2 separate regions of the Homo sapiens genome follow, and region 2 is linked to region 1. A link means that fine-mapping ties the variant in region 1 to the plasma level of a protein whose gene starts in the linked region. Region 1 holds a variant in brackets. A gene starts in the other region. All regions are shown on their reverse strands.

Region 1 (3,024 bases):
GCCAAGGCTCTGGAGCTCATAGAGGTAAGTCTGAGAACAAGGAGTCGACGCCTATCACTAAGTTAAACCATCTGGCCAAAGATGTGAAGATCAAGTCCTGGGAGAGCTGTCTTCTCTCTGCCCATCAAGGTGTCTGAGATCATTGACCTTTTCCTGGAGTCGTCTCTCAAGAATGGGGTTCTGAAGATTATGCTGGCACAGAAGTTGACCCATGCTGGCCATTTCACCAGGTTCAAGGTGTTTGTTGCCTTTGAGGACTACAATGGCCATGTTGTCTGGGTATTAAGCACTCCAAGGGGGTAGCCACTACCATCCAACGGGCCATCATCCCAGCCAAGCTCTCCATTGGACCCGCACAGAGAGGCTACAGGGGGAACAAGATCAGCAAGCCCCACACCAGCCTTTGCAACGTGACAGGCCACTGGCTCTGTGCTGGTGTGTGTGCCTCATCCCTGCCCCCAGGGGCACTAAGCATCATCTTGGCCTCTGTGCCCAAGAAGCTGCTGCTGATGGCTGCTACGCCTTGGCCAGGGACCGCACTGCCACCCTGGGCCACCTTTGATGCCATCTCTAAGACTGCTAGCAACTGGATCCCTGACCTCTGGAAAGAGACTGTATTCACCAAGTTTCCCTACCAGGAATTCACTGACCATCTCTCAAGACCCACACCAGAGTCTCTAAGCAGAAGACGCAGGTTCCAGCTGTGGCTACAACGTACGGTTTTCTTACCAGAAAAATGAAATGAATGAAGCCTGTTAAAAATAATAATAATAGTTAAGACTTGGGAGAGTCAGCAGATTTCACGCCTCCCTTAAATGTTGCAGCCTTGTCTACTTCAGTGTGATAGGCCTTGGAATTATTAGCTGCATTCTTCTCCCCTGATTTTATGTTGTATCTCCCCCTTCTTGGCCACATGTAATTGTTCTTTTGAGAAGAGTCCTCTTGAGCCTGTGACCAGCCTCATTAACCGTACACTTCTGGTGAGTGGTCCCCAGTGGGGGAGCTGTCAAGCTGAGTTTTGCCATCCTTTCCAGGGCCGCCCGTCAGACCATGGAGGGACAGGCCCCAGTCGAGTATATATGACCCTTTTGCGGGAATGAAAACGCCAGGCCAGCGGCAGCTTATCACCCTCCAGGAGCAGGTGAAGCTGGGCATTGTCAACGTGGATGAGGCTGTGCTCCACTTCAAAGAGTGGCAGCTCAACCAGAAGA[A/G]ACGATCGGAGTCCTTTCGTTTCCAGCAGGTAACTAGCTTCGTATGGAATTTGTTTCATGTCTATTTCCCCACTTGACAGTAGAGGAGGGCTGGGCCATGGCTGTCTTGTGTATTGCTGTACCTGGACACCTGTGGCTGTGCCTGCGAATGTTTGAGTTTCATTGTGAACCAGTGAGTGTGTATGAGTGTCACCTCGGTCTGTAACCACATGGCTCCCTGGCTGAGAGCTGGGTAGCTTTTCCAGGTACCATGAGGCTTGAGATCAGGAACAAAGACTCAACTACAAACACTAACTCTGCTGCTGTGTCTCTCTGCATTTGGCTCCCTGCTTCTGCTTTCCAGCTTTTTTCTTTTCAGAGTCTCTCTCTCTCTATTCCTACTGCCAAATACCCTCATAACTATCACACTTTATGACTCAAAGAGAACTTGGAAAACTCCCAAGAAATATGATTAAATGAACAAAACAAGTTGCAGATACAAAACCACCCAAATTAAAACAACTCAGACACGTCCACACACAAACTCTGTATTTCTATGGACATGTATATAAATGCAAGGACAAAGATCTGGAAACGGCCACTTCGGGCCCATTCCAGGGGCCACCTCTCAGGAGAAGACTGGGATTGGAGGACTGGGGTGTCAGAGGAGACTCTTGCTCTACCTGTATAGTTTGAAGCTTTTATGAGAATATATAACTCCATACCTGTATCATAAGTGTACATGATGTATAATTAAAAACAAAAAAAGAACTCAAACTTAACCTTAGGAAGCTCATTCTTAGTCCACCAATGCCTTTGTATTAAAAAGGAGGAAATGGGGCTCAGGAGGTTAAGGGACACGTCCAAGGCATCTTTCCTAGTGAGGGGCCGAGTCAGGACTGGAACTATTGCTTTCTCTCTCCACCTCCCCAGGCTGCTTCCTTCAAAGTACTAGCCAGGCCCGACCCTGCTTACCCTCAGAGATCAGATGGGATTGGGCGCGTTCAGGGTGTTATGGCTATAGACCCTGGTGGTGTGTATTCTAATCTCTGTTCTTACGCTATCTGACATACCAGCTGTCAAGGCGGGGAGTAAGCAGCACCCGTCCAGGGCTGAGATAGGAGCCTGTCTTCTGGGACAGGATTAGTGGTGAAGAGTGGGGAAGCATGTCATCAGGCCGCATTTGCTGACCTCCGACAGTGCTATGTTAGGCATTGTGCTCAGCGTTAAATAGACCTGATCTCTTTCACTCCTCATACACGCATATGAAATAAGTATTACTCCTCCTGTTCTACAGAAAACTGAGGCTCAGAGAGGCGAAGAGGCAGTCAAGGTTCAAACCTCCCCTTTCTCACCCCAGAGCCTGTGCTCCCTTCACTATGCCTTCTGCCTTTTTAGTGCTCCTTAAGACAGGGGCACCTGCTCTGCCAGCTGCCTCCCTCCCTTTTGGGGCCTGAAGGGTGGGAGGGCACTCTGGAGAGCTGAATGCAGGAATCACGGGTGCTTTTCACTCAGGAGCCCCTGGGAGGCTGCAGTCCTGCTGAGAAAAGGCTGGCCCTGGCTAAACAATGTTTTTTTGCTCCTTGCCAAGTTGTGCAACCACGTGGCACAGTAGTTAAGAACAGCCAGGGCTCTAGAGCTGGCAGCCTGAATTTACATCTTTATTCTGCTATTTGATGACCTTGACCTTGCTGTGCCTCATATGAAAGGGGAGGACTAGGTGATATAAGCTACTGTAAGCAGCATAACTGGTACGTAGTAAATACATAATAAATGTTAGCTCTCTTTCTTTTTTTCTTTTTTTTTTTTTTTACATTTTCTTGTAGTGTAAGGT
Region 2 (2,500 bases), not on the chromosome of region 1:
AAAAGAAAAAGAGAGAGATGAAACAGCAGAGTGTATGCAAAAACAGCTTTACACCCTGGATTTAAAGGGCTCTACATTCTCATTCAGGAGATTTTTTTGCATTGGTCCTGAAACTTTACACTAAACAAGCTTATCCCCACACAGGCTTTCCTAAGCCAATAAATAAAGCTATGGAATACCTATTCGTTTTCAGCACTTTCGCTGTTAGCCTGGTTACCAACATTGCTCCCTTTTCCCTCTGGTTTTGCGTATCACTGAATAGTTTCTTTTCTCAGTCATACTCATTGAGCTGGATACCTGGACTTAGACATCATTGCCTGACAGCATCTTTCCCCTAATAGGTTACTTTCCACACATTCTAGTTATTCTTAATCCTAGACACTCACGGATTTAAGAAATGTTGAAAATTAAGATAGCTTATTCTCCTCCAATCCCTAATCTAGGCTTCACTTGCCTAGAACTGGTATCCCTAATGTGCTAAAGGTAGCAATGGGAGAGATTATAGGTGCCCTGATTTTGAGGGAAAAGAGGGGCAATTTTACAAATGCCAGAGTTAGTACTAATGGTGAACCCTTCTCAAGTGCCCTGAAGCTAATTTGCATATACTTCTTTTCTGTATTTCATTTTCAAATATCCCCCAGATTGTAATTTGCCGTGATTTTATTTTTCAGTGATTTCATGCTCATTTACTGGTACACTGAAAGTTTGAATATCAAAGCGTATATCTGTATGAATAGGTTGACCCTGTACATAAGTCATCATATGCAGCAAGGGTCAGACACTACACATAACCGGGGTGACAGCCCCATCAGTCCCTGATTTAATGACATGTTTGCATAATATGACTATACTAGAGAAAGTTTGCATAGTGGGACTATATTGCTGAGCAAGAAGAATGTGCCAATTAGAAACAATCCAGGAGACATCCCTATCAAAGGTGAAAAGTATTGTAGATGTATCAAAGATGAATTTCAGCAGGACCATAACCTGATGAGACTCATCAAAGTAGGAAACTGCCTTTAGAAAACTTCCTTTGAAATACCTGAATTCTTGAAAAAGTCCCTCAAATATTGATGTGTACTATCTGCAGCTTGTGGAACTGAATCAAACTATATTTAAAAAGGAGCATCTTTAATTTTCTCAGACTTCATAGAAAAGGAAATGGAGACTGGTCACTAGAGGGTTCTTCTTCCTTCTACTTCTGCTGAAGGGTAACTTCCGATATCAACTTCCTCAAACCTCTGATGAGCTGCTGCTGCTCGACTCTGAGGTGCATTCTTTTTTTGATGAGAGGCATCTCTAGGTACCATCCCTGACCTGGTCCTCATGCTGCCGAGGCTGTTGCTGTTGATCTGTGGTGAGTTGGGCAACTCAGAGCAGGGCATGGGATGCAATCATGCTTGGGCTCTGCTTCCTGAAGGGCTGTAAGGACTTCTTAGGACTAAGGTTCTGTCAGGTAATGCTCAGGGGTGCTCAGATCTCCACTTCCACGGAGGGCTCAGAGTCAGGCAAAAAGTTGTAGATATTTCAAAAAGCCAGAGTTTTCAAGAAAACTATCATTTCAGTTTTTATCTCATAGGAAGTGTTCACTGTCTGTCTTCCTTTCCATCAATAATTGTCTTTGTTCTCAGTGTTTTCAACAGCTGCCAAAAGAAAAATCTGTATAATAAATAGGCCTCTGAATTCCTTGCCCTTCTTACTACCAACGTTATTTCCTTTTATCCCTCTCTGACTCCCCATTCCCACAGTCAAACCTTAGAACTTATCATCACTCCTTTGTTTTCAGCATACATCCCCCACCCCCACTAAGTTGTGTTTCTAGCTCACTTTCTCCTGCACTCTATTTCCAACATGACTTCAATTACCCCAGGGCTACTTTTCCATTATCAGTAACTACACTTCATGTGCTCACTTCTCATGGTGCTCAGCTCAGATTCTGCAGCTCACCACCACAACACTCCCTCGAGCACACCTTCATCTCTCTTCCCCCATAGCACTCTCCTGGTTTACACGCCCTTCTGCATGCTTCACTCCTGGACATAAACAGCTGAATGGGATTTTTTTTTAAATGCACAACCCTGATGACTTATCCCCTTTTAAGTGTAGGACCCCCAAATCTCAGGTAGCCAACAGCAATGCCAGGCAATTATCCTACATGTTCACAGTCCATGTTGCTCCATTATCACTATTGCATACCTTATCCTGTCACCTCATACTTCTCTGTTCACTCTCATTGTGTAATCTTGCTTCATATTTCATTGAGAAAATAAAAGCAGTCAGAAGAAAACTCTCTCATCTTTCTGTTGCTGTTGACCTACTCACCTCTGCATTCACATACACTGCCTTCTCTTCCCCTACCACGAATATATTGCCCCTCATCTTGTTGATGACAAGACTCTCCACTTGTGCATTAGGCCCATGACCCTCTTACTTTCTCAAAAAGTTTGCTCCATCATCAATATGTTTCTTCATTCTAAATTATTCCCATAAGTATACAAAC

Direction of the effects. Alleles are on the strand shown, and positions count from the first base shown. The strength of an association depends on the size of the effect and on how common the allele is.
With allele G in place of A in region 1, the plasma level of the protein whose gene starts at base 1,244 in region 2 is lower (weak association).

The links. PIP is the chance, under the fine-mapping model, that this variant and not a neighbour inherited with it causes the effect. The UK Biobank Pharma Proteomics Project read protein levels with antibody pairs (Olink). The fine-mapping took linkage between variants from a reference panel, not from the people measured, so its PIPs are less certain.
Region 2: it holds the start of FCRL1, and the variant in region 1 is fine-mapped to the plasma level of the FCRL1 protein (UK Biobank, PIP 0.97).

Annotation. Positions count from the first base shown.
Region 1 is chr10:96,618,568-96,621,591 of GRCh38, reverse strand. PIK3AP1 (phosphoinositide-3-kinase adaptor protein 1) reads left to right here. Exons shown (of 17, transcript NM_152309.3): 12 at 1,035-1,240. It also overlaps the pseudogene RNA5SP324 and the pseudogene RPS2P36. Among named protein-coding and RNA genes, the nearest start is that of TM9SF3, 33 kb to the right of the region's middle. The variant A/G (reference allele first, on the strand shown) is at 1,212.
Region 2 is chr1:157,818,864-157,821,363 of GRCh38, reverse strand. It overlaps FCRL1 (Fc receptor like 1), which reads left to right and starts at 1,244. Exons shown (of 11, transcript NM_052938.5): 1 at 1,244-1,357. The coding sequence starts at 1,327.